Regions from separate parts of the Homo sapiens genome. Here region 2 is reported to be linked to region 1. The links are microRNA targets in miRTarBase. Many come from high-throughput screens and were not tested one by one. Region 1 holds a microRNA gene; the other region holds the end of a gene's coding sequence.

Region 1 (5,177 bases):
TTTCCTTAGCACATTGTTTCTTTCCCAATTCCCCCTTTCCAGAATTTTTATATACGCATCTCAACTGTCACTTAATCACGTCAATGACTCCTCATCATTTGAGATTTGGCTCCAATACCCCAGGCAGAATTCCTCTGTATGGTTTTCCCACAGGCATACAGAGCATCTCTTCTCCCATTTCGGCTGTGAGCAACTCCTAAGACCAGTGGAGACCCTGAGATGCCACCAGTGCCTGGCATATTTCAGAATTCAAAAAAGATTTGTTTAAATAAATACAATTTAAAACCATATTCCATTTTAAAGGCTAATTTTATCCATATGAGAATTCTCCCTGCATGCAATGTGAAGACATTTAATTCATTAAAGGGGCATAACAATTTTATATATATATATATATATATATATATATATATATATATAAAACTTTGTTTACATTAGAGTATAATTAAATAGGCCTGGCACCAATCAGGGCTCTGCCACTTACTGTTTGGAGAAGCGATTCACAATTCGCATCCTTGCACGTTCTTCCTAGATGTGCCAAGAATGCAAGACCCTGATCACGCTTTACTTGGGCCATTTCTCAGCGTTGTGTTTGCAGCGAGCAATCTTGAGGGATGAGGTAATGTCTCCCTATGGAACAAAGAGCAGGCTTGCTTACTGCTCACTATAACATGGTGGGTTCCCCAAGCTCAGCATTCCTCTTCTGTAATGCAACCCATCTTGTGTGTAAGCATGCATCTGGGCCCGTGTGCTTCGTTCCTGTGAGAACTGGGGTCCAGGGAGCCAACTCAAAAATGGTGATACTCTGGCTATTGCTTTTGTTGTAATAGTCTTTTATCTCTGACTCAGAAGTCTGGTGTGTTCTGTCAGCATTCATGAAACCGTGAAAGCTAACGTGTTAGTTTGCAAACATAACAAAATATGATTCATCACAGTTCTCCACGCTCACTAGCTGGGCGTCCCTACACGAGTTTTTTAACCTCTCTTAGCTGCAGTTTCCCTTCTTTATATTATAAAGGGGACGGTGGTGTGTATGTACCCGCCCCATAGCTTCGTCTTGGGGTTAAGTAAGACTGTAAAATCCCTACCACACTGGACTCTTCCCAGGACTTCCCTTTCCCTCTTTGAACTCTGCCAGAGACTATTCTGCATTTGAGGCCTGGCGATGCTGGGCAGGGGCGGGTATGGGTGAAGCACAGGGTGGGCCGCGGCTGGCGGGTTTGGTGCAGAAACGGGCTGTGGCCGAGCCGAGAAAGCGCGCCCAGCGGCCGCCCTGCGAATCCTCCGTAGGCGGGGCCGGGACTGCTGTGAGCTAATAGGAACGGGGGCCGGGCGTTCGGTCTCGCCGCTGCAGTCGCAGAGCAACCACGCGGCTTTGACCGTCTATTTCAAAGGGCTTCGGGGTCTTGCGGATGGGGATCACTGCGGGCACTGGAAACCTGCCGGCCCCCACCCAGCCGCCTCTCAGATTCGTGGCGACCGCACCCTTCTGGGCAGCGGCGCCAGGCCCGCTGCCGTCCCCACCGCTCGCAGCCACCAGGAAACCCCGCGGCCGCGCTCGAGCGCGCGCCCTCCGACCACATGCACCCGCATACGCATGCTCCCAGCGCTCCCACGCGTGCTGACACCCTCCCGGCTTCCGCCCACGCAGTCGCGGGCCCCGGGCGCGCGGGCTCGGGGCAGCTGCGCGGCGTCCTTGGAGGCAGGTGCTGGCGGCAAGACGAGCTCTCGGAGGATGCTGCGGCGCGGGGCGCGTCGCCCCCCTCAGTCCACCAGAGCCCGGATACCTCAGAAATTCGGCTCTGGGTCTGTGGGGAGCGAAATGCAACCCAAACCCCGTTTTTCGAACCCCGCGCAAATAAACACGCACAAGCACGCACACAGACGTCGCGCGGCGGCGCTCGCGCGCAGGTCCAGCCGCGGCTGGGTCGGGCGCGGCGGCCGGGCGCGAGGGAAGAGCCCAGGCCCGAGAGGGGTCGCCGCTTACGTCTCGCAGCCCGAGGGGAGGCCGCTCGGCCTCGGCCGCTCACAGGCGCGACGTAAAGGCCCGGCGTCACCGGCCCGGCTTAACGGTGCAACGGCTGGCCTGGGCCTGCAACTCTGGGGTCCCGGCCGGGCTGGAGCGGCCGCCGGAGAGACCTGGTAGGCGGGGCGCTTGGGGCAGGAAGGGAGCCGGGGAGGGAAAAGCGCGACTGTGATTCGTACGGCTGGGCCCGGACCGTGAAGGGGACCGGGTTGCGGCTGCCCTCACACCGACCAGGTGGGACCGTCGGACTGCGGCCGCCCTTGGCTCAACTGGGTCGCCGACCTTGTTGAGGGGCGACCACTGCGGGGAGACCGAGAGCCTGCGGCTGGCGTTTGAGGCGGATGGCAGTGCCCTGAGCGCGGCGGCTGGGTCTCGGTGACACTGACGACGGGAGGCGCGGTCGGAAGAGCGCGGGGCCGTCGCCTCTGGCTTAACATAGCAGATGCGCTGAGACTCCAACAGGTGGCTCCGTGGCGCAATGGATAGCGCATTGGACTTCTAGAGGCTGAAGGCATTCAAAGGTTCCGGGTTCGAGTCCCGGCGGAGTCGTAACGCTTTTTTCCCTCCCCCCTACAATTTATTTTCTGCCTCCATCATGTCTCTTATTTTTTTTTTTTGCTAAACGGTTTAACTTCTCTCTCATTCCCTGCTCTCGCAGTTCACTGCATTCGGTTCTTGCGGTCCTTTCTTAAGCGGCTCGCAGGGTCCCGAGCCCCTCAGCTCCCCGGGCCTCGGTGGCCCAGGGCCCAGCTCAGCCGACTGGGCAGTCGATGTAGGTCCTGAGAAGAGCGGCGGCGGCGGCGGCGGCGGCGGCGAAGGAAAAGCGACACTGAAGCGAAGGCTCGCGGTTTCGGCCTAAAGGAAAGTGCAGGGGAGGCCCGGGTCTCGGGTGACACCCCCACGCCTTGAGCGGGACTGTGGTTGCGAGGGAGGGACGAGAAAACACGCCTACGCCCTGCGTGCGCTGTGCTGACTACCTCTCCAGCATGGAGGCTTCCAGATGAGCAGACACCCGAATCCCAGCGGGAGCCCGTCAAAAATGGAGATTTCTGCCGTCACTCTGGGACTCTTAATTCGGTCCGTCTGGGGTGGGGCCCAGGAATCTGCATTTCTGATAAGGTCACCCGCTCCCCTCCCCCATTATTCCAGTGCAAAGAGGTCCTAGGCCCAGTGCCCATCAGCTCCTCAAGACAGGAATTACTATATCTTTTTCTGACAACTGTTAACTTTGTACAAGGTTAGCAAATAAATCCAGGAATGAATGGAATCTTAAAACTCGTAAAACAACAATGAAAGGTAATTCACACAAAAGATACAAAATCCAAAATTGTCAAAAAAGATACAGGGAAAAGTAAACATCCATGTTATTCCTATAGTCCAGCCTTGCAATTCTCTCCACAAGCCATTAGTGGTAATGGTTTCTTGGAAATATTTTCAGATTTATTTTATGCCCATATCAGCATTTTTAACATCTTTTGTCATAAATATGTCGTAAATAACAATGTTATTGATACATATCCTTTTAAAAACACAATGGTAGTATGCTATACTGGCTTGTTTTACTTATGAATATATGTAGAGCTGCCTCGTTCCATTGTACGTATGTATGGTAATGATTTAACAGTCCCTAATAGCTGGACATTTAGATTGCCAGTATTTTCCTATTACAAACAATGCATCAGTGAACATCCTTGTTCTTTTATTATTGTACACAAGTACAGGTACATCTATCTGTAGGATAGATTCCTAGAAAGTTGAATTGCTGGTTCAAAGGTTTGTGCGTTCTTAATCTGTACATTTTTTAATATATATTGGCAAATTGCCCCATAGAGATTGTATCCATTTTTCTCTCCTTAGCAATGTGTGAGAGTGCCTGTTTCCCCACAACTCACAAAAGGTGGTTTCTAGCTGTGATTTTAATTCGTCTCTTATATTGATTTTTTAAAATTTGTATTTATATTATTATTATTATTATTTGAGACAGGGTCTTGTTCTGTTGCCCAGACTGGAGTGCAGTGGCACTATCACAGCTCATTGCACCCTCAACGTCCTGGGCTCAAGCAGTGCTTCCACCTCAGCCTCCCAAATAGTTGGAAGTACAGGCACATGCCAACACACCCGGCTAATTTTAAAATTTTTTGTAGAGATGGGGGTCACTCTATGTTGTCTAGGCTGGTCTTGAACTCCTGGACTCAAGAAATCCTCCCATCTTGGCCTCCCTAAGTGCTGGGATGACAGACAGGAGCTACTACGCCTGGACTGTGTCTTTTATTATGAATCAAGATGAGTACCTTTCCATACAGAGAATAATTTGTAATTTTTTTCCTGTGATTTATCTGTTCTTGAGTTGTGTTCATTTTTCTGTGGTATGATGGAAAACAGCCCTTTGTGATATATGTTACACTTATTCTTTTTCAGTCTTTTTGTCGTTTGACTTTGTTTATGGTATTTTGTTTTGTTTTTCTGTCTTACAGAAATTCATGATTCATGTATTTGGATTTATCAGTCTTTTATGGCTTCTAGGTTTGGGGCCATAATACACTCAGATTATTAAGTTATTTCTTTAATGGCTTTATTTTTATGGTTTTGTTTATCTTTGCTTCATCTGGAATGTGTTTTTGTATAAGGAGTGAAGTGGAAGTTTTGTCCCAAAATCACTTTTAATGAACACTCCTTCTTTTCTACACGATGTCATTTGAAATGCCACATTTATAATTTTTTTTTTTGAGACAGAGTCTTGCTCTGTTGCCCAGGCTGGAGTGCAGCGGCACAAATCTCAGTTCACTGCAACCTCCACCTCCCAGGTTCAAGCAATTCTCTTGCCTCAGCCTCCTGAGTAGCTGGGATTACAGGTGCATGCCACTACGCCCGGCTAATTTTTGTATTTTTAGTAGAGACGGGGTTTCGCTATGTTGGCCAGGCTGGTCTGGAACTCCTGAGCTCAGGCGATCCATCTGCCTCTGCCTCCTAAAGTGCTGGGATTACAGGCAAGAGCCACCACATCCGGCCCACATTTATAATTTTCTAAATTCCCACATGCATATGGGTTTCTGGATTCTCTGCTGCATATGGGTTTCTGGATTCTCTGCTCTATTCCACTGACTTTTCTGTTAATTTTGATTCACCAGAACTGTGCTGTTTTACCATTTAG
Region 2 (5,000 bases), not on the chromosome of region 1:
AAGGTCTCATGATATTGCCCAGGCTGAATTTGATGTTATTTCAAGTTGATTTTCATGTGTTTGGGAGCTTGTCTTGTTCTCAACTACTACGCAGGTAGACAGTCTTCCCCCAGAGACTCATTAGATTGCAATATAGAGGCACTTTCTCATTTCCCTATTGTTCCTAATACAGAATTGTAGAGCTGGAGAGTACCTTCAGTTTTCTAAATCTATTCTCAAACAGGATATCACTAACCTCTTTAGAATCATTCCTCAGTATACATCAATTTATTGAGAACTGCCTAATACTCAAGAAATTAAATCCTGAGTTCAGTAGGCTGTGTTCCAAGCAGGAATTATTTTCACTTACCAAAATATCTCCTATTACCTCAAGGTATCCTTGTTGAGGAATGCTGAAAACTAAATTTTAAGTATCAAGTCTAGACCATAGAGTGCTTTGGTGGGAGTATTTTGATTACCTCCTACCCATCAGAAGCAGGCAGCTAATATTGTGAACTGAGTATTTTTGTCAAAAGTCACAGGGAAGAGACTACAGAAGAATGAGAAGGGTCAAAAGGACCTAGTGTGGCTTACTACATGGATCTTGTCTCTTGGAGGTCTGTCGTAGAAGAAGAAACAAATAGAGGTGATGAAGACACAGAACAGGCTCAGTCAGCATCCTCACCCAGAGATGGCAACATCTATTAAGACCAATGCAATACCTTTTCATCTTCAGCAAATGTTGTTTCATCTGTTTTTGATCCTTGGCATTGTCAAAAACTTAACTGCAGGTCCAGTGTATATTTTTCCTTATTTTTCCCTTTTAGCTATCTGCTAAAGTGAGTAAATGCCACAACTGTACTTTTCCAAAGAAAAAGAACTATTGACAACTTATAGCCTGTCATGCAGGTCATGTTTCAAATCAAGGCTGAAATTTTCAACAGCTGTGGGAAAAACTAAAACACAGAAATACTGTACAGTATTAGTGTTTTTTTAAAGAAATTGTTAGTGCATTATTGAGTATACTAAATATCTGTGATTAAATAAATTAGTTCTAACTTTTGATTTTGGGAGCCCAAAATAAAGGGAGTGTTGTTTTCATGGTTATGCCTTGTTTGTGGAGTCAAGTGTTGATATACTTGAGGCATGTTATGTGTCTTCTAATTAATATTTTTATCACCTTGAATTTGTGTCTCTTCCAAGCATTAAAGATACTATGGATCTTAAATTCCTTATTAAAAAAATGCAAGTGTGAATACTTTGTTTAGCTTACATTTTAATTTATTGTGGTTGACCACATTTTATGGCTCCTGAGTGCCTTCACCCAGCTACACTTTACCTTGTATCTATAAAAGTGTAATTTAGAGTAAATACATTGGCTGTAAAGTCGCGATCAGGTGCTCTCCACCAAAAGCAAAACAAAACTGCTGAAATGTGGCAAGGTTTCTCAGTGCAAGCTTAAATGTTTAAACTGTTGACCATTTGGAAAATACTGGACAAAGGGGAAGGACAAAACATCATTTGCAATAGTTAAAGGTTATGCAAGGCAAGGCAACATTATACTTTTTGACTAAGTTATTAAAAGTTAAATGCATTTCTTCTTTGAAGTGTGGATTATAAAAGCCAATCAAAGACAAAACCAGTTTGAAAAACCTTTTGTATTCTACAATACCTTTTATGAGTAAGAGTAAAACATACATTTCTTATTTGTAATTTTATTTAAGGAGAAATACTCTTTCCCTTTGATACGACTATAATATTATAAACAGCAAGGAATATGTTCTGCTTTCTGCAATTTTAGAAAGTCATTCCATTCTGGGTGACAGAATGAGGTAAGACTGTCTCTTTAAAAAAAAAAACAACTCACACCTGTAATCCTAGCACTCTGGCCACCGAGGCAGGTGGATTGCTTGAGCCCAGGAGTTTGAGACTAGCCTGGCAACAAAGTGAGATTCCCCCTCCTCTCTCTGAAAAGTAAAAAAAATTAGCCGGTCATGGTGGCACATGCCTGTGGTCCCAGCTAAATGAAAATCTGAAGCAGGTGGATCTCTTGAGCCCAGGAGCTCAAGGTTGCAGTGAGCCATGTTCGCGCCACCACACTCCAGCTTGTGCAACAGAGACCCTGTCTCAAAAAAAAGTCATCTGTGTGTTTCTTGCAGGCACATCTATGGCAATGCTTGTACCATGAATTTAAAACTTCTAACTTGATGGCACTTTTTTATTTTTTTTGAGACAAGAGTCTCACTCTTTCGCCCAGGCTGTAGTGCAGTAGTGTGTTCTCGGCTCACTGCAGCCTCTGCCTCCCGGGTTCAATATGAGGCAGCCCTCCTGAGTAGCTGGAATTACAGGCACGTGCCACCAGGTTAGGCTAGCTAGTGGCCTAGCTAGTCTCGAAATCCTGACCTAAAGTGATCCACCCACCTCAGCCTCCCAAAGTGTGTGGATTACTTGTGTAAGCCACAGTGCCCGGCCTTACCTGCTTTAAAAAACAAAAAAACTTAGGTTTTCTTGGAGTCTGTGCTAGTTGAATCTTGCAAATGCAAACCACATACGCTCTTTAATGAAAACCTTTCCATGCACACCACTGTTAGGAAGAGCATCATTAAATCACTGACTTCTACACCCATAAAAGGATGATTTTGAGTTTCAAGATTTTAGATTTACTAGAGATAGCATGTATCTATCAATCATGTCACACAAAAAATATTTCCAAAGTGTTCTCTGTTCAGAAACGTCACAAATGCTTCTGTTTGTCAGATCATTTTGCAACAGGTTAACTAATACTTATCTACATAAAAACCTGAAAATTGGCACAGGCAGGCATTTTGAATTAGTAGATTACCCCCATGGAACAGTATTCAGAATTATTTTGTCTTGTGGGCTCTGAGGCTCTGGGAGGTAGAGGTGGACCCTGACAGTCCAGGTCATTAACATCCACATTCAGTTGATGCCTCTCAGACACAGTCCAGTACTGGATACCATTTATCATTCTGCAAAATGTTGTCTACATCTTTCAGGTGCTGGTCATTCTTAGATTAGCTTCTTAGCTGTTCTGTTGATAAACAGAAGACTTCAATTTTCAGGATGGATGATTCCAACATCTTCCACAAGCTTTCACTTTCACTAAATTATTTTGTTATAAATTTGATCTCCTTCAAAAGTGCCTTGAAGTCAATTTTGGTTGTAATGTATTTGTCTCTGACGTATTCTTCAAATTCTCTTTGTTTTTTTTCCTGTCATTGGAGAACTGCACCCAGAATCTTATTTTTACTACTTCCATGTGAATGTTAAGGTACTCACAGAGGTTTCATCCAGAAGTCTTCCCTCTTCTTTCTGGTAAGTGCTTCAATGTGCTCATTAAGCTTCTCTTTCTCTTCCCTTTTCAACAAAGATCTAGATTCCCAGTGGTGATCTTTTTGATGAGTTCTCTATCAAACTATGACACATCTGAAGAACGTACCTGAACAACCCTCAGGGATAATGCAGGATTTTTCGAGAAAGTTCCAGGGTATCTCCTGGTGTCAGTATACTTTCAGTCCTACACCTCAAGAGTTTTTTAATAACAGCTTTATTGAGATACAATTCATACCTTACATTTAAAATGTACAGTTCAGTGGATTTGAATATATTCAAGAGTTGTGCAGCCTACACCACAAGCTAACTGTAGGATATTTTCATCACCCTGAAAAGGAACCCTACACCCATTAGCAGTTACTCCATTCCATCTACAGCCAGCCTAGGCAACCACTAATCTTTCTGCCTATTCTGGACATTTCGTATGAATGGAATCATCATGTGATCTTTTGTGACCGGCTTCTTTCACTTAACGTTTTCAAGGTTTATCCATGTTTAGTATATATAAGTCCTTCGTTTCTTTTTAGTGCCAAATAATGGCTATGGGCATGGGGTAGAAGTGCTAACTCATACAGCAGCTGTTTCATCTTTTGAGGAACTGACCGTCTGTTTTCTGAAGTGGCTACACCATTTTACATTCCCACCAGCAATGTATGAGGGTTCTGTAATTTCTGTACATCTTCACCAAGACTTATTATTATTTCTCTTTTTAATTACAGCCATTCTAGTGAATGTGAATCTCAGGGTTGTTTTTTTTTTTTTTTTTTAGAGACTGTCTCACTCTGTCACCCAGGCTGAAGTGCAGTGGCACGACCTCAGCTCACTGCAACCTCCACTTCCTGGGTTCAAGTGATTCTCCTGCCTCAGCCTCCCAAGTAGCTGGGACTACAGGCAATGCACCACCACACCAAGCTAATTTTTGTATTTTTAGTAGAGATGAGGTTTCACCATGCTGGCCAGGCTGGTCTTGAACTCCTGACCTCAAGTGATCCACCTACCACAGCCTCCTAAAGTACTGGGATTACAAGCATGAGCCACTACACCCGACCTCATAGTAGTTTTGATTTACACTTCCCTAATGATTGTGTCCAGCATCTACTGGCCATTTGTTAGTGGTTTTTTTCTTCTTTTAAGAACTGCTGAGACATCCATAAACATTTTCAAAATGCAGGGTATGTTTTTCAGTGTTAAGGCAACTGTTCTGATGTGTTTTTCCTTTGCTCTCTATCACCAAATACTGTACATATAAATAGTAAGACTGGGCTTTGTGTTGTCCATTGTTAATCCTAAATGCAACAAAACACATGGAGACTTTGAAAATCCTTCAGAATAATGCTATAGTTAAGATTTTGCTAAAGCAAGTGTTTTTTCTAACTCCTTGAGCTGCATATTGCCTTGAGTAATCATCATCCGGATTGTATCCTGTAGAATAAAGTGAAATCTGGTTATAGTTTTACCTGGTTAAACAAGGTATAGCTATACCATTTTATCTGTTAAAATCAAGAACCAATACTACCTATTGGAACTGCTGCCTTTTAGAAAAGCTAAAAGAGTTCCACATACATACATATAAAATGTACAACATAAAAGTCAAGTGATGATGCTGAAGAGTGTAGATACTCTTTTATCTACATATTTTAAAATACTAAATTTTAAAATAATAATTT

What was found. Region 1 holds the annotated microRNA hsa-miR-760 (CGGCUCUGGGUCUGUGGGGA, at 1,798-1,817, shown strand). A microRNA usually pairs through its seed, bases 2 to 8, with sites in the 3' UTR of a target mRNA and lowers its output. Matches are read on the target gene's strand: a 7mer-m8 pairs with bases 2 to 8, a 7mer-A1 pairs with bases 2 to 7 and ends in A, and an 8mer does both.
Region 2: miRTarBase lists LYRM2 as a target of hsa-miR-760. Seed matches in the 3' UTR shown: 7mer-m8 at 2,867-2,873 and 7mer-m8 at 2,859-2,865.

What each region holds. Positions count from the first base shown.
Region 1 is chr1:93,845,083-93,850,259 of GRCh38, forward strand. MIR760 (microRNA 760) reads left to right here and starts at 1,750; the gene lies at 1,750-1,829. It overlaps TRR-TCT1-1 (tRNA-Arg (anticodon TCT) 1-1), which reads left to right and starts at 2,491; the gene lies at 2,491-2,575. It also overlaps a transcript of BCAR3 not described here. RefSeq lists enhancers at 1,041-1,170, 1,846-2,636, 2,851-2,900 and silencers at 1,301-1,360, 1,451-1,830, 2,011-2,150.
Region 2 is chr6:89,632,599-89,637,598 of GRCh38, forward strand. LYRM2 (LYR motif containing 2) reads right to left here. Exons shown (of 3, transcript NM_020466.5): 3 at 1-4,755. The coding sequence ends at 4,675. ANKRD6 (ankyrin repeat domain 6) reads left to right here. Exons shown (of 16, transcript NM_001242809.2): 16 at 1-1,223. Among named protein-coding and RNA genes, the nearest start is that of MDN1-AS1, 3.4 kb to the right of the region's middle. RefSeq lists an enhancer at 4,897-5,000.